3 separate regions of the Homo sapiens genome follow, and all the other regions are linked to region 1. The links come from fine-mapping of genetic effects on gene expression. A gene starts in region 1. Each other region holds a variant in brackets. All regions are shown on one strand. Distances are from middle to middle. Region 1 holds the start of INPP4B (inositol polyphosphate-4-phosphatase type II B). Region 2 overlaps INPP4B (inositol polyphosphate-4-phosphatase type II B). Region 3 overlaps INPP4B (inositol polyphosphate-4-phosphatase type II B).

The links.
Region 2: its variant is fine-mapped to the expression of INPP4B in whole blood (INTERVAL, PIP 0.97).
Region 3: its variant is fine-mapped to the expression of INPP4B in fibroblasts (GTEx, PIP 0.98).

What each region holds. Positions count from the first base shown.
Region 1 is chr4:142,841,298-142,849,654 of GRCh38, reverse strand. INPP4B (inositol polyphosphate-4-phosphatase type II B) reads left to right here and starts at 3,354. Exons shown (of 26, transcript NM_001101669.3): 1 at 3,354-3,446. The region is part of intron 3 of USP38-DT (USP38 divergent transcript); the gene reads left to right. RefSeq lists an enhancer at 2,011-2,597.
Region 2 is chr4:142,695,923-142,704,100 of GRCh38, reverse strand. The region is part of intron 2 of INPP4B (inositol polyphosphate-4-phosphatase type II B); the gene reads left to right. Among named protein-coding and RNA genes, the nearest start is that of INPP4B, 150 kb to the left of the region's middle. The variant G/A (reference allele first, on the strand shown) is at 4,300.
Region 3 is chr4:142,404,951-142,412,950 of GRCh38, reverse strand. INPP4B (inositol polyphosphate-4-phosphatase type II B) reads left to right here. Exons shown (of 26, transcript NM_001101669.3): 6 at 7,627-7,745. Among named protein-coding and RNA genes, the nearest start is that of INPP4B, 440 kb to the left of the region's middle. The variant G/A (reference allele first, on the strand shown) is at 4,902.

The DNA of each region.
Region 1 (8,357 bases):
CTGGGGTTTGGTAGCTGGAAGAATCACAGTACTTGGAGAATTTGGAACTGGTTCACAAGTTATAAAGTTTAAGAGTCGTTAGCCACCATGCAATTTAGTGCACACCAGAGAAGCAGAGAGTGAGACAATGTATGTGGGGAGAGAGAGAAAGAGGGAGAGAGATACAGAATGGGACAGTTAATGTAGTGGGGGAAAAGAGACAGAGAAAGTTCTAATGGCCTGTCTGTTTCCAGTCATTCCTAGTGCCCAGTTGCATTCTTGTTTTGGGGTTCCATGGGGCAGCCAAGTATCTTTACAATAATTTATCCTTTTTACTTTAGTTCTTATTTCTAACAACATCCCCCTTAATTTAAATACACACAGACATACACACACAATATACACACAAGAGATGATGCTAATGTATACATAACAAAGTTTCTGTAATTTTTAAGTTTTTAAAAATTGAGATGAAAACAAGGACTTACTTTACAAGTTATTGTTAACATAACTGAGTAAGCATTAAAAAACCTATATGATGCTTGGTGCTATATTCTAGAAGAGATTTTGAATAGTGAAGGATCATAAAAGTAGATATGATGTCATATTAATCTCACCTGAGATAAAAATCTAGAGGAACAATGAATCTATGGAGAGAGTGTAGGCTGCTTCACTGCAAAGGCGAGTGTGACACCAACCCTGTAGATCCTGGCTTGATTTTATTGCTTTAGACAGCAAGGTAACTACAGGGAATCACCTTTGACTTCTGGCCCTACAAAGATATTTCAAAAGGAAATGAAAAATATTTTGTCCTTCATTGGCAAATGGAGTTATGTTTTGGGGGTACAAGTCAGCAAAAGTTCAAGGTTTGTAAAAGTGAATGCTGAATGAGTTTATTAAACCACGGAAGCATCTGAATCCTCCAGGCTTATTCAAGGAAAAAGCCACCAAATAACTAAAAAAGGTAAATATCAGGATGATTGATGGATTTTTAAAAATGCCTTGTGGTACATGCATCTGATGGCATCCTGATTCATATTCTCTCTTTTCTGAGAATTCAAACTTCCTACGTGATGTACACAAGTAAGTCACATATTCTTCAGCCGCCCTGTAAAAGGACTTTGTCAGCATGGTCCATGTCTGGACTTTAATTATAATAGGGTCCTCTAAGCATCTCACTTTAAACGTCCATTTCCATAGAATCAGTAACTGCATTTATTTTACAACTCAGTCTTTTAGGAGGTATGGTTTGGTATTTCTGGCATTGCTGCTGTAGTCTTCATAAACACACACACGCACAGACACACACACACACACACTCTTCCACTTAGAGGACAGATATGTTAACCATATTTCCAATTTAGTAGCAAAGCTCTGACATCCTAATGTCCTGATATTATTTCAATCTCTCTCTATTGTGAGAAAAATCAGAAACTGCCCAGTGAGAAAGTTGTATCATCTTTCCAGCAGATCTCTATGAACACGGCTTACCCATTGCTTGGAGATGGGTGTGTTCAGTGCTGCCCCATGGAGGAGAAATCTAACTGTGTGAAGGCTTCTCAAAGCTGATCCACATCTTGACAGGGATTATTTGTTCCTCACTCTCCTATCTCTCTGCATTCAGCTCACTTGGGGTAGAGGCTGAGCATAGGAGAAAAAGCTTGAAGAGAAGCAAAAGGAAGGGCTTCGGGGGCGCCAAGCAGTTTCTGGCCTATAGTGTTTATTATTTGATTCTATAAACATTTATTGAAACTACAGAATATTAGGTATTGTCCCAAGCTCTGGGAGCAGAGTGATGAAAAAAATAAATGAAACGAACAAACAACTCCCCCCACCAAACAAAACAAAACAAAACAAAACAAAACAAACCCAAAGTCCCTGTCCTCATTGGCAAGGCTTATAATGTGGTGGTCAAAGGTTTGAGGAGTGAAAGGATGCCTAGATGCGGGCAGTGACAGCAGGGGTGACAGCTGGGGGTACATACAGCTTCCTGGTTTGTGAAACTGTTAAGCCCCGACTTAACCCAAATTGATTTCACTGTCCTGACTTTGAGATTCCAGTCTTTTTGCATGGCAAATGTAACACTTGTGTACAAGCATTCGTACACTGCTTTACTTAAAATGTGATTTTAAAGCGCCCTCAGGGAGAAGGGCTGGGGTGTCTTGATGGGCTGGCTCTGGGCACCTTTACCTTTGAACGGCTCCATCAAAACCTTTCCGAGAGAGCCGCCAGGTGGCACCTGTAAAGCGCAGATGGGGAGAGTCATTTGCCCCACACCCTACACAGCCCGGAATAACCAGGGTGCGTGCTTTCCCCTGTGGGCTTGTTAGGGGCTAGGAAGTGGGGGAGTTTTAGTCTCCGTCCAGACTGCTTGCTTACATACCCCGTTTTCCTGATACCCCAACACATTCAGGGCGGATTTGTCCCCACGCACCCGGGATATCAAAGGCATGTCATACGCTAGTTGGGAGCATCTCGGCCTCAGTCACCCGCCGCGACGTGGGAACTGGCGGTGGGTGGCCGAGGGCTGCTCTAAGCTGGTCTCCTCAGCCCGACCTCTGCCCGGGGCAAGGGGGAGGAGGGGCAAGAGACAGGGGTCCCAGCGCGGCTGCAGACTGGGGTCCAGCAGGCGTGAATGGATGCCTAGACGCAGGCAGTGACAGCAGGGATCCCAAGCCCCTTCCAAAAACCCTCGGTCTAGGGACTGCGCTGCCATAGGCCGGGGTCTGGGGCGCTTTCTTCCTCCCGCGGGTTCTTTCTCTGTGGTTTCTCCTGCCCCCGCAGCAGCGTGGCGGCCTCGGGTCCCCCCTCGTCGCGGTAGCGGTGATCCCACAGCCCAGTCTGGGTGGGCGACCCAGCGGGCAGAGGGGCCGCAGAAAGGGGTCGGGGTACGGGGTGTGAGCACACGGAGCCAGCGTGGTAATTTCGGGGTGGGCAGCCGGGCCACCATCTCCGCTCTATCAGTAGCGGGAAGCGAGCAGCGCCAGTTGCGCGACTGTCGCTGCCACGGCCGCCTCTACTCGGTCGCTGGTGACATTGGGAGGAGACCGCTTGGAGAGAGCAGAGGAGGAGGAAGAGGAGCGGGGAGGGTGGGGGTTGGGGTGGAAGAAAGTAGCAATTGTGCCAGGGGGCGTGTGAGCAGCCGGAGAGCCAGCCGCGCTGGTGACAACTTCTCTGGGGCGCGCGCGGGGCTGGTAGGCGAGGAGCGAGCAGGGAGCGCGGCCGAAGCCAGAGGCTGGGGGAGCTGCTGGAGCCTCGCGAAGCCGCGGCCGGCGCCCTGCGCCGTCGCCGCCGCCTGCTAGTTTCCTCCGGGTTCTCAGCCCCGGGTACTGAGGCTTCGGTCTATAAATAGCAGGTTACAGCTCCTCCTGGGCGCGCACACGCTCACACGCTCGCAAGCGAACGCAGGAAAGTCAGGCTAAAAGTGTCTGCTGCTGCTGCCGCCCCCCACTCCGCCTCCGGGAGAGGTAATTACCCGCCTGGGATCCTAGGGCTCGGTGGGGGAATTTTGCAGGGTGGGGTGGTTGATGGTGGGTAATCCGGGAGGCGAGGGAGCGTGTCTGAGAGCGTGGCGGCACGTCTTGGAGGGGGGAGCCTGTCTGTTTTGCATCAAGTTTCTCCGTCTTGCAGCCTCCATCACCCCTCCAGCTCTTTAGCTTAAAGGGTGGGGTGGGCTGTCTCTCCTCGGCTGCTGGGGTACCCCTGTCACCGCGCCTACCCTCTCGCCGAGCGCCCCTCTGCCCGGCGCGCGCGCGTTTTCGCATTCTCACTCACACACGCACACTCTCCGGGCCCCCGTGGAACTCTGAGCTCTGGCCTCGCTGACCTTCCAAGGCTGCGCCCACCTGCGCTGTCCCTGAGAGACGCTGAGGTTGGCCCGGGCACTCGCTCTCACTTCCAATCCTGATGATCGCAAGCTGCCGCCGCCGCCGCCGCCGCCGCCGCCGGCCTGGGAAGAAGTCCTTAAGGAATAGAGGCAGTGGTGGGGAGTGAGGGTGACTGATGTTGGTGGTCCCGGTTGCCTTGTTTTTTGTTTTAAAAATAAAGAGCCCATCTCCTTGACCACCTTCATCCCACCCTCAACAACTCATTCTGGCAGAGAAGCCTGGCATGTCTTCTCTCGGCCATCAGGCAGCATCTCTTGTCCTTCCCCAAAGAGGTCTCGCTGAGAGGTTAGGGCCTTGGCGCAAGAGTGCCTGGGTTTGGACGGGGGAGGTCATTGTTTCGGGTCTGAGAACTATGCTGCAGGCTCCTCAAGCTCTCTGGCGCTCAGGCAGGGCCCAGGGCCGGGGAATGTCTGGGAGCCTGGTTCCTGAATGTAGTTTCAGGCTGGTAGCTGATATGAAGATGAGGATGCTAGAACCACATATACCTGTTTTTCCCCCTCCCCACGCTTCTGAATTCTCCCTTCCTTGGGGGCAGTAGTTTCTGCTCCTGGGGAGTCGGTGGAGAGGGGCCCAGCAGTTTCTCTTTGGGGACAAGAGGGTGAGGAAGCACATATTGATTAGGTTGTTGCTGCTGCTGCACAAAACTTACTGGAAAAACCCGGTAGGGTTTTCTATTACTCTTGTTTTAAGGATGTAAATTTACTCCTTTTCCTCTTTTATCTTCTCCCTAACCAGAACTAGTTTTCCTTTCTCTTTCTGGAATGTTATTTGAGGTCATTATATTTTATGACTCCAGATGTTACATTTTGCATATCTCCTTCCTGTCAGTATGACAGACAGAACTTGTTTATAAAGGTGTGGCTCTGTAAGTAAAAGCCTAAAGACAGAGGATAAATTCATCTTCTCTCTCTCAAGATGAGCTCCAGATAGTTCTTTTATAGGTGTACAACTACATTTCAAAGACCTTGCTTGAAAAAGGACTTTTCTTAATGAGTTCTGGACCAGAAATGGTAGTAATCTGACTCAATGATAAAGCAGCGCATAAGGTGCAAGGAATCATCAACAGGGCAGCTGGCTGATGATGTGTAAGAAGTTGAGTAAAGCAAGGACTGGGCAAGTGGGCATTGTCAGTTCACATACTATGCACAGAAATGCATCCTCTCCTTTACGCATTGATGCACATACATGCATTATGTGTTCCTTTGTGATATAATCCTGTAAAGCATTGATAGGAAATGATCAATAGTTTTGTGAAAGGTACATGGGCATTGAAGGTTGAACCTCGTGAATTTGTAGTAATGTAAAATGCTATTGCAAAATGGATTGCTTTTTCAGTGTATTTCCTTAAAATGTGATGTAGAAGATTGTCCTTGAAAGGTTATGAAATGTGTGTGTGAAGATAGGCTAAATGCTCAGTGACATTAAGAAACATGTTTGCAGATTGAAATACTGCTCTTATTCTAGGAGAGTATTCTCTTTGATTAAGCAAATCAATATTTATTTGTGATAAAATAATGATCACTATGATGTGCATATTTATAACTCAAATTTGCTTTTGACTCTTTATAAAGTGTAAGAACAACCAGATAGACCATTTAGTCTTGTCCCTCTATTTAAAGTAGCATGCAGTCAAAGGTATAGGCAGAAAATACTTTTAAAATGTTGTGTTTGAGCTTCAGTTTGGGGCTGCAAATTGAATGACTTCATGTCTCATAAGATTTTTGTCAAAATACTAAATCGCTCTACTATCATAGACCATCAGTTAAACTTGATTATAAAATAATGCTATTATATTTTAGTTGTGTGAAATGGAAAATCATTAAGCTTAGGGAAAAGCCAGATATTTGTTCTAAATTGTGCAAATTGAAAGTAATTAATTCCTTTCTGAAACCTTGGAGCATCTTCTAGTATAAGTACTATAAATCCCCAGATGGGTAACAAAGTTAACTTTCACTACCTTGAGGGAGAACCCAAGATGACAATTCTCTGAAAGACAGAAAAAAAACCTGCTAACTGATCTTAAAACTCATAGCAACCAAATGAGTGGCAGTTTCTAGGTAAGTATTTGACATCTGAGAACAAAAAGTTAAGAAATTATGGAATCATAATTAGTGAGTAAAATGCTTACTGAATATCTATTACATTTTCTTATTTCATACTGAGTGATGCCCAGTAGTACTAATATTAGATATACAAATATCATACCTAATCTGTACAAAATAAATTTTTGTCTTTCACAACTATGGGGATTTTAATAGATAGAAATGCCCTGTTTTAAATAATCTCAAGTTAAATGTTCAGGTGAAAGCTGTGTGAGTCTCTTCTGTATTATGTACCTTAGTTTTTCAACATGTCCTGTATATCTTTCTAAAGCCTTAAGGAATCTTTTCCATAGGCCACTTTGTTAATACTTTTAAAAAATGTTGAGCTAGAAACCTTTGATTAGAGAGCTCTTTAGAGCATACTCTAATCATATATACTATAATATTTAGGCTTCAGAAATGAGATTATTAAATAATTTTAGTTTAAACATTTATTTTTAGATGAATCCAAGTGATGATGCTATGATTGAATTTTGTTGTGCAAGATACATGTAGTCTTTGTGTTCTAAAACTTTAGAGCAGTATATACCTAGAAAAGATCAGTATATACCTAGAAAAGACATTAAGATATGTGCAAAAATTTTAATTACTCTTTCAGTCTCAGGCACAATGGTCACTTGAATCAAACTGTGTTAGTTTATTTTTTTAAATATATTTTCACTACCTTGTAGATTAAAAGAAACATTTAAAATGTTTAGGAAATTTTATGGACTACATTATATATAATTTATATATGTATATTTATATATATCCAGTATATTATATATAGTATATATATTATTATATATAAATATATAATAATCATATATATTTATATATATCATTATTTATATATATTTTGATATATATGATATATAAATTTATATATATCATACATATTTATATATAATTATATATTTATATATCAGTATATTATGTTAGGATTATTATAGATATATTATATATTATATTAATATTATAATATATTAATATATTATATTTATATATTATATATTATATTAATATATTAATATTATATTATGTTATATATTAACATAATATATTATGTTAGGATTATTATATATAAATATATTATATATTATACATATAATAATACAATAACTATCTTATATATCATATATTATATATTATATATAATAGATATTGTATATATTATAATATAATATATGTAATAGTTTTTTAAATAAGGCACAGTTGTACTCACTATCTTATTTCTTATTTCTTGGAAGTATCTTGCTATCAATGGTATACCATAAGGCCAATGGAATATCTAGGAGCCAGAACTTTAGATTTTTTTCAATGGACTGTGTAATTTCACCAAACATTAGCTATTATAATAGATGTCATTCCAGCATGATGTGAATTGGGTTTCAATACAGTATATGTCCTTAAATAATATATTTCAAACTGAGTTTCTTGAGTTGCAGTATTTTGAGTAAATTCTATCTTCTGTATTAGGCAGCCATGCCAACTTGGTGTCCTGATTTTAAATAGCCCTATGAAGAACTAAGTGAAATAGAATTGGCAGTAATTTGTTTAAACTGATTAAAGGAAATTTTGAGAAGTTTTTCAAATCATGTGGTTTTGGTTATACATTTCTTTGGGAATTATCTAAATCAATAATATTCAAGGGAATGAAGGCAACATCTCCTCCCTTAAAAGGAGAGCCTGTATCTATCTATCTGTCTATCGATCTATCTATCAATCTATCTATCTGTGTCTATCTATCTATCTTTACATACTCTTCTGGTTATGAAAATAAAGCAATACAAAAAACAATGGTGAAATTACTCAATTGTTTTTCTTTGTTGTTTTACAAGGATAGAAAAGTTTGCGAGATACACAGACAACTTTAATTGTCATGCTGACTTCTAATGATTGGAGTAACAGCATCAATGTAAAGCATCTTCCAAGATCAAAAGAAAAATATGATTTTTAAAAATTTTCATTTACTAGTTGTTTATAATAGATCATTTATTTATATATTTTAAATAGCTTTGAAGGAGAACTTCGAGATTTTTATGTTTCTCAAAAGAGAGTGTGAGTTTTTAAATGTTAAGCAACAATGATTTACAAGGAATCCTCTTAATATTTTTTACTATGAAAAATTTGACAGAAATATGAGCCTTTCACCTTTCACCTTAGTTCTTAGAATAGATAGTTGTAGTGCATTAAGTAGATCAGACTTGGGGACTACCATTTTAGAATACAATGAATTAAATAGAATATACTCCCTGACCATCAATAGCAATCTTTCCTTTAGTTCTTTCAAAATGGTTCTCATTCATTTTCATGGGGCTTTGCTTTCTTAGCCAAAAGATCAGAGATGAGCTCTTGCCATTAGAACAACCAAAACACAAAAACTATTCAATGCTGGGAAAATAAAAAA
Region 2 (8,178 bases), 150 kb after region 1:
CTGTGTTGCTGGTGAGGCCTTGAGTCCTCTGCTCTGTGAAACACAGCTTCTTCTAATAGATATTCCTACCGACACACTCTCATTGGTTTTGGGGAGGTACCACCCCATTTTGCTTCTAAGGTCAGTCCTTGCTCCTGGCTAGTTAAGTGCCAGATTTTGGATACACCATCTCCTTCCACACTTTGAAGGTAATGTTCTCATACTGGGGTGCACCAAATGGTGGAGCTCCAGAAATCAGCCACTCTTCTGAGTTACTAGTCTGGTGCTGCTAGTTCACTTGTTTCCTGAGTTAGCCCCCTTTACCTACTGGAATGCATCTGGTCTTCTTTATGCTCCAGAGTTTGGTACCAATGCATTCTGCCCTCAGAGAGGAGCCCATTTTTATCCCAGGATGAACTAATTCTTTGGGGTACTAATAATTGCAACATTCATTCTTTCAGAAACGATGAGACATGCTGTAGTAAATTAAGCTGCCCCAGAGAAAACAAGCTTTTTATTTATATACCCATAAACATCAAACCCTATGTTCCAAACCTGCTAATTTGTTTAATGGGACTCCCTGGACTCATCACTAAATTTGGGAGCACATTTTTCTTTTATTCTCCTGAAGCTCTTGTTCTCTCTAGCCTTCTTAACAATCTGTTTAAGGCTGGCATTGTCATCTCTGCCCCTCATAATGTTCCTTTAATAGTACTTCTGCCATAATAGTATTGTGACCTAACCATTGAATCTAACTTGCTGCAGAATGTATTATCATTATTGTAAGGTATTTATCTTTTTAAAAATGGAAAACTATTTATTAATTTAAAATTCTGAGATTTCAAATACATACTTGTTATTTGTGAGAAAGTGGCTGTGTTTGGAAGGGCCAATACAACAAGTTGAGGACATTGTGAGAGTTTCATTTACATTAACTAATGGATAAAAATGGCCTTGAAAGACTCACAAAGAGGGCAGGAGAGAGAGTAACAGGTTCTGTACCAAGTTTTTTCACAATCTCTTCCTTTTAATCATTACATATTGTCTTCCTTTGGCAGGTGAGGAAATCGAGCTGATAGAAGTTAAGTAACTTGCACAAAATAACATGGCTACTAAGTTTCTGAGCCAAGCTTAAACTCACATCTTATTAATTCCAGAGCAAGTGCTCTAGATAAACTAGTTTTTCTTCAACATGATAGATATTAGCACTTGTTGATAAAAACATCTTCAATGTTATCTAACTTCAGATGTAGTCAGCAGCAAAATCACTAATGCTATGCAACCAAATTAGGGAAATTTTTTTTTGCAGAAATCAATCTTTATTTAAAAATGTTATAGTTTGTGAACCCAAAGTAAATTCAAAGTTCTTTTTTTTTTTTTTTTTTTTTTTTGAGACGGAGTTTTAATTTTGTTGCTCAGGCTGGAGTGCAATGGCGTGATCTCGGCTCACCGCAACCTCCGCCTCCCAGGTTCAAGTGATTCTCCTGCCTCAGCCTCCCGAGTAGCTGGGATTACAGGCATGCACCACCACGCCCAGCTAATTTTGTATTTCAATTTTAGTAGAGATGGGGTTTCTCCATTGTTGGTCAAGCTGGTCTCGAACTCCCAACCTCAGGTTATCTGCCCGCCTTGGCCTCCCAAATTGCTGGGAGTACAGGCGTGAGCCACCGCGCCTGGCCTCGAAGTTCATGCTTTAAATCATAATCTAGTGAAGAGATTTCTATTTTTATGTTTTTGCAATAAGTAATTAGGCTTTCTGGAATATGCTAAAGACTGGAATAAAGAAGAGTAGATGATTTTTAAGAGGGTCTCATCAACAAGAATTCTGTGAACCACACACAAGAAATCAACTTTACCCAGTGCCTATATGGAGTCTTTTGTGTCCAATTGTAACAAACAATTTGAACTTGAAAGAATGATTTTTTTTTTTTTAAAGAAACTACTAAAGCTTAAAGAGGACAAAGCCATGAAAGCACAGAAAAGATGACAGGGTCTGTGTGTGGGGTTACAAGCCAGGAAAACCTTGTATTGGTAAGACTGCTAACAGATTGCTCAGGCTCCTAACTTAGGCTTGACTTGGCTAAGCTTCAGTGTGAGTGGGAGCCTAACTCTTTCCAGTAGTCTGATTTCACCTAGTTCATTTTGTGTTGAACTCTCATAATATGTAATAAATGTGAGTACATTTTTAGTACTAGTATATATAGTATAGTAGACATCAAAATATCTAGAATATTTGAGTAAATACAAATATTTATTGTGTTCATTCAATTTTGAGAAACTTCTGTAGTTCACCTGTGTAGTCAACCTACCCAAGTGTCTATTTGATAGATGTCTAGAAGGGTTTATCACCTACAGTACCAGATTTTCAGGCTCTCCATAGTCGACTGTGTCCTCTGCACATCAAGGTAGAGGTACTAACTCCTTACTCCTGAGCTTGATTATAAGCAATGGTTCAGGAAGGTATCTAGTAGAAGAAATGGTCTTTCAAACTAGTGTTTAACAAAAAATTCTACAATTTCATATATATTAATATGTATTTGGTGAAATAGAAACAAGCCCAAACTGTTACCAAGACAAATCCCTTTTTCTTTCCATGAAACCTTTTTTTTTTTTTTGGCTGCTCGGTGCTGCTTGTTATTATTTTTCATTTTCAGCATGTATCTGATGATCATGCCAGCCTGATTGCACCAGTTAGAGTGTGGCTGCCCTTGACCTGATTGGATCCATGTGGCATTCCTTTAAGGAGCCTTAGAGTTGACCTTCCTCATTCTCCTGGCTATAATACATCATTTCCACCCTCTGTTTTGGGGCATCTCCTACTGTGGAGAGGCTGGCAGGAGGGAGTACCTACTAACCAGTATGGAGACCAAATGGGTGGGATATCCTCTCCTCTTTGGAACAGTCAGTGGTAATTATGACATACCTTGTTTACCACCTGCACTTTTCTGAAACTTTCAAGTAGAGGCTGCTCCAGGAGTGGCAAGCAGACCAGTTTGCTCTTGCCATATAAACTTTTCTGTGATTCCTACTTTCTTGGGGCTCCATTCCTCCCACCAGTTCCCCAAGACTGGCCTTCTAGCCTTTCATTAATGCTGTTATCTTTCCAATAAATTTTCTTATGGATTAAGGTAGCCAGAGCCTGTTTCTTTTGTTTTTGATCTATAGCCCTGACTGATACATGATCTTAACCATAATGTGTTCTGAGATAATAAATGTTTAAATCATCTGGGTATCAATATTTTATAATATTTTAGGTATAATATTATCTAATAATCCTTGGCCCAGATAGTTTTTATACTGAAAGCTGGTATAAAAATATAAATTCATTTCACTGATGCACAAACACAAAACCACACATAATTTCACAGAAAGGTCATGTGACCTACTTCTAAGAAAAGATTATAATCTGAGATAGGAAAATGCACCTGCTGCAAAAAATAAAAAAAAAATTTCATGCAAATAAGACAGGGCAAAAATGAGTTAAAAATTGGGCAAGTGTACAATGACTAGCTGTTTTCTTAAATAAGATTGCTCTTTTCTTTCCCAAAAGATGGAATGAAGGGGTTAATAGAATTTAGAACAGATACTTTGAAGAAAAGAAGTAATTCTCTATCCTACGATGGAAATAAGTACAATTCTATAGGAATCTGATTGACTGGTTTCATCTTCAATTCCTATAGATTGAGTTGAAGGAATACAAGATACAGCACAAAAAAGAATTATAAAAACCATATTCAACTCAGTACTGTGAATTTATGGAAAAGAGAAGCCATAAAATGTGTCCAACTAGTGCTCTCATTATTTAAGTTAAATTTGGTGCCTTCATTGTAAATAATAAAAAGTTTATTATTACCCATATCCATGTATTGTTCAAATTCCTCATTTATTGTGACACTAGGTTTTTTTTCTCCCTGTTGCGGTTTTAGAAGATACTACTTGGCATCATCAGACTTTTGATAAAGTGATGAGTCCCAAAGCTTGATTGGAATGGTTTCAAGAAAGGATTGGAGAAGAAAATTTGAAAACCATGAGTATAGGCAAATCTAGTAAGATGCTTTACTATACAGGGAGAGAGAGAAAGAGGGTGGTTGCTGAATAAAATTTTTTTGTTTTGTTCTTTTAAGATGGGAGAAGTAATAGATTGTTTGTATGCTGATGAAAAAGAACTGGTGGAGAGGGGAAAACTGTAGAAAAAAAATGCTAAAATGATGCCCTTGAGTAGGCAAGAGGAGTTGAGATTTAGTATAAATTGGAGTTAGTTTTAGACAAATGCATATAGAGTTGACTCACAATGATGGAGAAGAGGCAAGATATACAAGT[G/A]CAGATGAGGTTGTTAAAAGGGTCTAGATATTGCATACCTTTTGATGGGAGCTTGCATATCTTCCAGTTGCTTATATTTTCTTACTGAAATAGGAAGCACAGTGTCAGAGAGACATAAAGATGGAGGGGGTGTCAGATGTTTAATAGGAGACAAAAGTATTTAATAGAATTTGAGGTATATGCATGAGTGAATGGATCAGGGATGTATAATATATTTGCCATTGAAGATAAAGATCATGGATATAAAGCAACGCTGGCCAGTATGGTTATGGGATTTTCTCCAGACACATTCAACCACACAGGTAAAAGGACAGAGTAGGTGGAGCTCTGTGATTTACCAAGCTCTGTGATTACCAAGCTCATGATTTTCCCAAGTGAGCATAATGAAGCACAAGAGAGTCATGGTAGTTTGAGGTATAAAGATATGGCTGAATGCAATAAACAACCATGACATTTAAGCTGGATAAGAATGGAAATGAGGACATGAGGAGGGAAGGTATATTGAAAAGGTGGTTGTACAATGGATTGTAGATGTCAGGGGCCAAGCTGAGCTGGAGAGAGCTGTGCTGTGCTACCATGCTTCAGAATAGCTGATTATGACAATAAACCACAATGAAATAGTGCTCTAACATTTAATCACTCACTGTGATAGTATAAGCAAGAAGCTAAACCAGAGAAAGTTCTGACCACTGTCTCTACCACTTCCCACTTCCACCCCACCCATGCACCACCTCTGTCCATTTTACCCGTGAAACAGTACTGGATATCTGAGGGTCAAGTGAATCAATACATGTGGGGAATTGCTTTACTGCTGAGGGAGTCTTGAACAAAAGTCTCCTTTAGTTTTATATACTAGGGGCCCAGGGAAAAGGGTGAAAAGGAAGGGGTAGGAGTAAAAAATTATTGAGCTAGAGTGGAGAAAAGTGTCTTCAAGGTTCCCCTTCAGCTCCTCCAAATGATAAGTTCTTAGCAGAGGTTCCTGAAGGCCTTCTTGCTGAGCTAAGAACACGGATATGCATAAGAGCATGGCCAGCCCTGGGGGCTTGAGTCTGTGACTGCAACTCCTTTCAGCAATGCACTAGCTGCACACCAAGTCTGGTATGAGGAAGGTAGTTCAGGTCTGCCAGGAAAAGTCTTTGTAACTGCCTGGGGTTAGGCCTGAAAGATCACAGTAGGTTTTTAGCCAAAACCCAGATTCCTCAGTAGACCCTGATGCAGCTTAAAGATTGTTGGACACAGAATGGGAGTTAGAAAAATTAGGAAATGAGATGCTTGTGATTGAGATCTGCAGAAAGTCCAGATATTGGTAGTGACAAGATCTAGGGTCTGGTAATGAAAATGAATAGTCCTAATAAAGTGGAGACAATCATTTAAGACAAAAGGCAAGATCATATCTGTGGATATTGAAATCTCAAATAGTTATGACAAGAATAACACTGGAAGGAGAAATGGTGACCTACCCTTTCAGTGCTAAGATTTAAAAATTAATCTCGTATGTCTTTTTTTCTATGAGAAATAATTTATGAAAACTCTATTGATTTCAAATCAATAAAAATGATGGATTTGTTTCAGAAAAAAATTGTTTATAACTTGTAAGATCTGTAACTTAATTGTTTTCTCTTACTGGTAAGGGCATGTTCATGCTAACAGTAGCCCTATAGCTGTGGTTACTTATCTTAATTACAGCCAAGATTTATTTCAGCTTGAGTGTTTTATAAGCAGATTAGAATTTTAAAATTTTCACAGCCAGTCTTCTTGCATTATACTCTTTTTAAATTCAAGCATGTTTCATATTATAAGAAGCTAACCTTAAATTATAGCCCTTGTTTTGTTAAATATTCAGTATTCTAGGAATTTGAAATTCTCAAATGTAGTCTTTAAAACTCTGAGTTTATCTGATAAGGATTTTATTATTATTGTTATTTACATATGAATACAGGAACAAAATGTGATTTAAGTAAGTCATGGCCTAGAAAGGGATTTGTAATGTCTTGGCCCTATTTAAGAACTTTTACCCATGCCTCATGTTCTAGGATTTCTACTTGATCCAGCTTGGAAATCTGAATAACTCATGATATTGGGAAATTTCCATGGCTGCATTTTCTTCAGTTCCTTGCTTGTAGCTCACCTTTGTCTCCTGTTTTTCTTGTAGGTTTCCAGTATATGCTTTGGCCATATAAAGTAATAAAGCAAATAAGTTCCTATCGTTTAATCATATAGAAAAGCCCAGCAAGAATCCATTGTCCAAATCTTGTTTGATTAAGATTGATTGACAGTTTTATGTAATTGGATGACATTTTTAAGAGAAAATCAACAGAACATTATCACATGGTTAAAGCCTACTGCCAGAAACAATAAACTTGGCTTACCTATTTCGTTAGAGTATTATTTTGATTTATTCACTCATGTATATAATTCACTTTCACAGTTGATCCCAGACTCTGTTTTTATGAATGGCAACTCAGAGAATTTAGGTAGCTTTTCTGGGAGCAAGGTTGATGGCATTGGTGTGGGTTGGGGAAAGCCTAACAGTATTAAAAGGGAGAATGATATAGAGGTTGTTCATCCCATGTTCAGTTACCGATGTGTTTTCACCAAAACCATATAATTTAAATGTCTCCTTTTCCTGGAAAATATGAAGCATTGTACAACAGGTAATTTTAATAACAATGTAACTTAGGCTGCTTATGATTGACATCAACATCACATGTATATAATATGATTGTAAGAATTTTTAAAAATGCATCATTGGGATAATAAACTGTAACTGACATCCTTTTAAACTAAAAGCAGGTGAAAGCTTGCCAGTGTTCCACTCTCTCTGACTTACCATTCTAAGAATAAACACATACAGTGGAGTGTGCGGGGCTGCACACTGTGGTTTTATCTACTTCCTTGCTAGAGGAAAGCACTGTTATAAAAACAAGTAAAACATGCAAAGGGAAGTAATTTAATAAGTAATTTTACAATAAAAGAATGGAACTATAAACCTGCTTTTCTTGGACAGCCTTGGTGTTATCCAATTTGCCCTCTTACTGAGCCTCTCTACTGGCTGGCTGTAAAGGACATGGTGAATTAGGATCAGAAGTCGATGGCTGTGTAGTGCCTGGTTTTGAAATGTTTGGAGAACAACATAAGTAGTAGCTGATGGCAAGGCAGAGGGACGCAGGGTTGAGTGGGCACTGCAGATGCCAGGATGACCCAGTTTAAGTGGGTGTAAGCAGTGAAGTAAGCAACAAAGTTGGGCAAGCACTGAAGGTGTAGTTTGTGTAGGAGACAGATGTCAGGGCTGGGGTGGGGAAAGGGAGTATCTGTACCACAGAATTACAGCCTGGGTCAGTTAGTGCCTTGCACTGATGTTTGTGTATATTTTGTCCCCTCAGCTAGATTTTATTACTCTTTGGGGGTGGTATCCTTGTTTATAATTGTTCCCTTGAGCTGCTGGGCACAGTTATGGAACAAGGTGGGTTGTTGCATGAGGATCTCTTGGAAAGTTCTCCTGGGGCTTTCTGGCCCCTTGAGGATGGTATAAATGCTAGTAGGACCAGGCACACTCTCTGTCTTATCAGACACATGGAAAAGGGCACAGAGGAAATGATCTGTTTTAGAATCAGAGTGTGCCTTAATCCATCGAATATGCTGGTGTCATTATTTGACTTCCTGGACTGTAAACACTGCCCTTCTAGGCTCCTGGGACCTTTCTAACCTTTCCTCGTCTGATAACTTTGTCAATACTCAACATTTTCTTGCTCAATCCAGGGGCACCTGTCTAATTCTCCTAGTCCCAGCTGGCTCTCCTTGAACTTGATCTGTCATCTGATCCACAGTGTCTAGGTTTTGGATTATCCTGGCCCGCCTTTCCCTTGAGATCCCACATCA
Region 3 (8,000 bases), 440 kb after region 1:
AGAGCAGTGTGTGCTTGACTCCTAGAGTCCCAAGTCTTATAAAATATATGAGTGGTGACTTTGATAACCTCGTCTTTCAGAGTGATGAGAGTAACACATATGTTGGAGAGGAAATATGAGATGGCAGAGAAGAGAAGAAAAAAGAATAATGTCAAAGGAAAATTATAAAAAGCAGGCTTGCCCGATTGAAAATAAGCTAAAATGAGAGGAAGGACAAGATGAGAGCTACTCTCAATGAATTAAAGACTCAAAGATTTTACAGAGAATACAGAAGAAAGATGGGAGGATATATATTCATGGCCATAAATCAACTCAGCATGATATAGAGACATATTCTTCTAAGAAATAACCATAAACAGATAGTAGTGAAGAGAGTATTTCCAACTGCTTGTGCAATTCTCATTGTGTGGATATTAGTATAGGCAGGGACACTGTACATTCTGTCATTTTACTATATATAATTGAATTATCATGGATTGTAGTGCACTGAGCCTAGGAAGCATCCTCTTCTGAATGTACTCAGGAGATCTGAGCTGGAGAGGTTGACATCCTAGGCTTCAGAAAATTGCTGTCTTAAAATTCTTGAGGGGAAGGAAGAATAAAAAACAAAAAAAGGCAAAGGAGATTAAAAATAGAAAAGCATATTATACTAATAAAGTAATTAGAGGGGCTATTAGGCTTTTTAAGTGCTCTATATATCTTTTAATGTATGATATAAACTGATTTAATCTAGATGTAATCACTGGTATAGAATGTTAACTGTGAAACCATATAATGGAGTCCAATAATTTATTGGACTGGAAACATAACCTAAATTGGCTTATCAGTTGATTAGTGGAATCTAATTTTCTGAAGTACAAAGAGGAAGGACATATATGTGACAGTTTTGAGAAACCTGAACAAACATTAAGAATTTCTGAATAAAAAACTGCCCCCTAGGCTGCAAAAGTCTTTTGCACATCCTTAGGGAAATGATGTGAGATAAGAATGGTGCTATTGAGGGAGGTGGGAAGCCAAATGGTATTTCCCTAAAGCTCTGGGTTTTTTTGTTTTGTTTTTGAGACAGAGTCTCACTCTGTCACCCAGGCTAGAGTGCAGTGGTGCAATCTCAGCTCACTGCAATCTCTGCCTCCCTGGTTCAAGTGATCCTCGTGCCTCAGCCTCCCGAGTAGCTGGGATTACAAACGCGCATCACCATGCCCAGCTAATTTTTGTATTTTTTGTAGAGATGGAGTTGTGCGATGTTGGCCAGGCTGGTCTCAAACTTCTGACCTCAAGTGATCCGCCTGCCTGGGCCTCCCAAAGTGCTGGGATTACAGGCATTAGCCACTGTGCCTGGCCCCTGTTTGTATTAAGGCCACTTTTCTATTCTAGGATGCCAATGTCCTCTGTACTCTGGCCCTTTTTGCTCTTAACAGGCATGGATTTATCTCTCCCATTTCTCCTATGCAGTGTCTGTAGAGGGCATAAGAGGTGAGCTTTCATTAGATTCGAAGGTATGCTTCTATCAGACTATATTGGGCTCTAGCTGTAACATTTAGTTTTAATTGCAAGAAAAAGAAGCTTTATTAGCATCCATAGTCTTCCTTTTTGATGAAGGAAATGTACAGAGCAGAGAAGCAACTCTTTCCCTGACCCTTTGGGACATCTCAGTAGTTAAGCAAGTGCTCCCCTGTGGGCCATCATCCACTGAGTAATGGAACCCTAACCTCCTAGTTAAACCCCTGCTTAAAGGGTGAGTTGACCATTTACATGTAGCACATATGCTGGGAGAGAGAAAGTCAAGTTTGCTTTCTCCATTGTAAGTTTCTCATTTGGAAGTACCTCATTAGAGGTGAAAATTACAAGTGCAAGTGTACACATCTGATTTCACAGAAAGCAGCATATTAATGATGCCTCTGATTTTCACAATTAACACATGATCTAGTAAAGAGCTTTTAAAAATGTATATTTAGCTATCTGAAAATAAGGTGAAAAAAATCACAGGTATATATTTAACAAATGCTTTTATTGAAAAAAGAATAACTTTATATAAAATTAGGACCAATCTGGAATATCTTGAGCATATGATTAGTATAAAAATATAGGATAGATAAAATCCATTTTTTGTGTTAATGCACAGTATAACTATATATTAATGTCAATAATAATTTAAAGGGACTCATATATTAGCATTCTATATACATTACCTTATTGTCTTTATAGCAAATTTATGAAGTACATTCTTTTACTTCCATTTTGCAGATGCTAGAATAGAGATTCAAAGAGATTGAGTAATTCATCCAAAGTCATATATAGCTCTCTCAAATAAGGTTTTATCTTAAGTTAAAAAAAATTTCTTTATCCTCCATACACTATGGTATGTGGTTTCTCCTCTAAGTCTAAATTTCCTTTGGCTAATTTTGAGTACAGAATTGTAGAGATGTGGAAATTCTTGTCATATCCCCCTCACTGATTCCCACGCACCTGTGGCCACTGCTTTGTTCTGGAAGAAAGAGGATAAATTTTGTTAGATTCCATTAACAATGAATGGCAAGAAGAGAGATGAAGTAAGAGTGAGGCAAGAGAAAAGACCTCACTTCACAGAAGAAAGTTTTCTTAGGGGGAAAGAGATGGTCACTTGGGGTTGACCACCAATTCACAGTGCCTCAGTGGTTCACACCACCACTCTCGTGAAAGCCTGGGGCAGGCATCTGCTTGTTGACACCCCCCTTGTCTAATGTATGCTTTACAACTACTTGAATTCGAGCAGTGTTGCTGAACTCAAAAGCACCTGAATGAACAGTTGTGTTCTACTTCAAATTGATTATTGCTGAGACTGAGCTCTCTGATGTGAATCAAGAGGTATTTTTAGGCTTCCAGCCAAAATTGGTTGGAATGATAGAAATGATCATGGACTCAATAGCCTTCACCTGATTTTGAAATAATGGCCACAGGAAACAGAAACTGATATTTTATAAAAAGCAGTATTTTGGTATAGACAGTATCTTTGATTTCACAAAAATCCTGAAGAGTCCCACCTTTTAGCTCTGGACTCTCCAGTGAGAACTACTGGAGCAGAAGAAAATCTGTGCCCTCTTCCTAAGAGGCTAGGTAGTAGCTGTAAGCGTCAAGACTAGAATTTGGCAATTTCTATTCCTCAGAAAAACTTCTGGCCAAATCTATCAAACAGATGTATTTTGTGCAGCTGTTCCAGTGTTCACCTGCACAGTGACTGGGGATTTCAAGCTTTGGAGAAATCCTAAAATCAAGGACACAGTGGGCCTTCATTTTTTCAGGCAATGACTTTGTATAGAGGTTCCATCTTATGACATAGTGTAAGCTTTCCAGTTTGTTCAGTGCCTAGCCCTCCCTGGACATATTGAGTCTTTATTTGTTTATTATTTTTTGAGATAGAGTCTCAGTCACCGGAGATATTGAGTCTCTTTATTTATTTATTTATTTATTTATTATTTTTTGAGAAGGAGTCTCGCTCTGTTGCCCAGGCTAGAGCACAATGACGCAATCTCGGCTCACTGCAACCTCCGCTTCCCGGGTTCAAGCGACTCTCCCACCTCAGCCCTCCGAGTAGCTGGGATTAAAGGCACCCACCACCATGGCCAGCTAATTTTTGTATTTTTAGTAGAGATGGGGTTTTGCCATGTTGGCCAGGCTGGTCTCGAACTCCTGACCTCAAGCAATCTGCCCTCCTTGGCCTCCCAAAGTGCTGGGATTACAGGCGTGAGCCACCGCATGTGGCCCCCTCCATTTATTTTTATTATTATGCTTCCACTGAGGATTTCCTTCTCGTAGAGTGAAAACTGCCTGGCTCCTGTACAAATATGAGCTGGGGATGCCTGTAGGCATCTCACTCACAGCTACTCATAGTAGAATGTGAACCCTCATGTTACTAGTTACCATAGCAAAAGTAATCAGGAAATAAAAAGTCACTTATTGCTCTTTATTTTTTTTCTGATGACAAGTCACAAATTATGGTTTAAAAATATATTCCTTCTGTATTATTATTTTTCCCACATTTCAATAAAAAATACACTGGATACAAGCACACTAGAATCCCCATCTATCAACATCCTGCATATTTAAACTCTTCTGAGGTCTAAGAACACTTTTAAACAATTCAATACTAAGCAAAGCCATTAAGAAGGCAGAAATTAAAAATCTACTGATGAATGAAGGATTGCAGTAGCATTTGTTTGTTACTGACCATTAGATTGAAGTGGGTAGAATTCTTAAATAAACAAAACGAAACAGAAGCAAAATCCCAAAGCATTGCTTTCTTTTAGTCTTCTGAGCTGATGAAGGCCACAGATGCAGGCCACTCCTAGAGTAGAATTATATTTGGTTAATGAGCAGTGGTAAGTATAGCTGGAAGACAGATATAACTTTTTATTTATTTATGAGACAGAGTCTCATTCTGTCACCCAGGCTGGAGTGCAGTGGTGTGATCTCAGCTCACTGCAACCTCCGCCCCTGGGGTTCAAGCAATTCTTGTGCCTCAGCCTCCCAAGTAGCTGGCACTACAGGAGTGTGCCACCACGCCCAGCTAATTTTTGTATTTTTAATAGAGATGGGGTTTCGTCATGTTGGCCAGGCTGGTCTGGAATTCCTGATGTCAGGTCATCCTGGCCTCGGCCTCTCAAATTGCTGGGATTCCAGGCATAAGCCACCTCACCCATTCACTTTTTTTTTTTCCTGAAAACAGATTTTTCAGGATTCTTTATTGGCTGCTAAATAATTCTCATACGGATTAGATTTTATAGTGATCATATGAGTAATATCTTCACAAAACAATCCAATCACTCATTATTTATCAGCCGTCTGGTGGGACTGATTCAGTATGTACAGATCCATGATGTGAATAGGTTTCACCTTATGAAATGCAATGACTCATGTACTAATTT[G/A]GTATTTATGAAGAAATATTGGACCTGGTAACAGCTTTTAAAAAGCTGAGTATGACTGAGTCAATAAAAACAATTTTACACAATAATAAAACACCAGATATTGGTAAATGTTGATATTAATATATATTAGTATGATATTAGTAAACTTTTTTTTTGCATAGAAAAGTCCATTTATAAAAAGGCCCAATTTCCTCACTTCCACCCTGAGAGGTAGGTAGATAGATGAGGCAATTAAGTGTCAGAGTTTGTGACTTACTCAGTGCCACAGAACTAGAAAGCAGGAAATCTGGGAGCACAGCTTAGGAATTCTGCCTGATCTCGGGTTCTCTCCAGGATATCATGCTGCATAAGACTTAGGGTACAGTAAATCCTCTGAGCTGTAGGAAGAAAAAAGTGCAGCCCAAGATGTAACTATTATTGTTTTCCTGACAAGATGTAACCGTATTGTTTTTAGATGTGGAATATAATAAAAATACAAAGCATCATCATTATTTTTATCAGTATTAGGGAATGTGCAAATTGGGTTGGACAGAACATTTCAGTGTAATAGAAATTTTCTCTGTTTTTATGGGGAACGAGGGTGAGAGTCTCTCTGATAAAATGGAGAACAGCTGCTCATTTCTGGGAAATAACCACAGCCCACAATCAAGTCTGATAAGAACTCAGAAAAGAAGTGACTTATTTTGAGCAAAGGTGTCATGAGCTCACAAGGTAAAAGATGGGGCTACAAGCAGAAAGTGGGCAAGATGCCTGTATTTGAAACACAGTGGCCTCAGCTTTAAAATTCTGATAGATATATGTCAATATCAGGAAACGGAAAAAGAGCTGTTTACTGTAAGCAGAAAACCAACAGTTGAATTTTATGAGCAATAAAATTAAACACATTCATATTGCAAGTAAAGGAAATGATCAAAATAACCACCAAAGAACAGTGAAAATCTAAATCTAGCTTTTTCTTTCCTTCCGGTGATACGTTGACATTATTGAAACCTGGCACCAGTATTTTTTAAAACTCTAAGTCTCTTGGGTTGAGTAATAATCGTGGTGTGGCGGTGGGTCTTCCAAAGAGAGGTGCCATTGTGCAGGAGGGCAGGTCGGCATGCCAAGAAGAGAAATGAAGCCAGTGGGGTAGGATGTAAGCTACCAGAGAATTCTAGTAATGTAAATGTGAGCACTTCATGTTTCCAAGCCTCTAGTTCTAGTTCTATGTAAAACTGAAATAATTCAAAGCACCATTTTAAGGAATAGAGAGATAATTAGCAAAATGCCTCAAAAATAGTAAGGGTTAAATACATTGTAGCTATTATGTTTTTTCCATACATGCTTTCATAAGCTCTCTTCTGTTACTAGAGGCATGTGGTTTATATAAGGAAAAAAAAGTATATGACAAAACGCCATACAGAAGCAGCAGGATCTGAAAGTCTGGTAAGAAGTTAAGCAGTTAAATAATTTTCCCAGTGTTGCCTAGCTATTTGAACTGGACTAAAACCAAGCCTGTTTCATTCCGAAGTTCCTGCTTTTTCTATCTCCTTGTACTTCTGAAAGAGATTATCTGTAAACAATTGAAAGGTGATAATTGCATCTATACTTTCCTTTGCTTTCAAGTTTCAGATTTAAGCCATATTACCTTTGTTACCAATGGTAAGGACCTTGCAAGCTCTGACCACAACATACCTTAAATACCTCATCTTTCTCTCCCTTCCTGTTATGGTCTGAGAAGTGGGGTAGGGATGGTATAGAACCCTGCATGCCCTCACCATGAAATCAAGGACCCAGGGCTACTTCCCCCATCCATAGCTCCAGCCTGCAGCAAGCCACCAGCCGAATTTAACTTGAACCACCTCTAGTGAGGGCACTTTACATCTCAGCAACTCAGCTGAAGGGAGTAAAATTATTATTTCAAAGGTGGGAGGCGAGGGTGGCGGGGATAGAGAGGAAAGTCGATTCAGACTTGCTTAAAAGGAATATTTTTCTGGATTTTTCTTCCTCAAATTGGGGGAATGATATGTGAGAGGAGAAAATATTCAAGTAAATATGGTATGGTGGCGAGGGTCTGTAATATGAGCCTGGTGTCTCAAGGGAAAGTTTTTAACTTTTGTGGCCCCTGGGCAAGAATTAACCCATCTCCTCCAGGCTTAGCTTGAATTCCAGACCAGGGCTTTAAAAATCCTACCTCTGCTTCCTCTTCCCCTGCTTGTGTGCTGTTGTGGTTGAGAAACTGCTCTCCTTGTTTCTGTTGGTGTGTATTACTGTGGGAGGCCAGTTCTAGTGAATACATAGGTAAGGACCAAGTATGAATTCAAACACTTGATCTAATCCAACCCATGTCAATAAGGAACACCAAAGTTTCCCAGATATGGCCCAAATCAACTTTCACATCCTCAAGGAGTGTGACTTAAAGCCCAGGGCTTAATGGCTAATTAAAGTCACTGAGGTTTCTGAGCCATGTGTGCATAGTCACGCATTAGAGCTGGGATCTCAGACCAGTAAAGACTTGCATGAACTGCAAATGTGGTCAGTGGAAATGAACTCTCAATTCAGCTCCACAGCACGTGACTTCCTATTTCTGTAAGGTACTTCCAAGGGACTTCCTCTGTAAAACCAGCCTGAGCCCCAGGAGATTTCCTTCAGTGCTGTAGCTAAGTTCACTTTCAGCCCGGCGCAGAAGTTTTCCCTGAGATATGGTGTTAGTTTCTTTTCTTTCTGTCTCCTCTGCCGTTGCCAGCATGCAAGGATCTCGTGGCTCCTGTCCGTGATCGTAAACTGAATACACTGGTGCAGATCTCCGTAATCCACCCCGTGGAGCAGAGTCTGACAAGATACTCCAGCACCGAAATTGTGGAGGTGAGATGCTGTGTGCCTACATTAATCTCTCTCTCTCTCTCTCTCTTGCTGGCTCGCTCGCTCTTGCTCTCTCTCTCCCTCCCCCCCACCCCCGCCCCATCTCTGGATTTGAATGAACAGCTGAAATAAGTTAGTTCATAGTCTGTAGCAATGCTGCATTACCATCCTCTGTCATTAAGAAGCACATACCTGAGATTATTAAGCAATGCATTGGTAATTTACTAGAACGAACAAATGACAAAATAACTTGTCTTT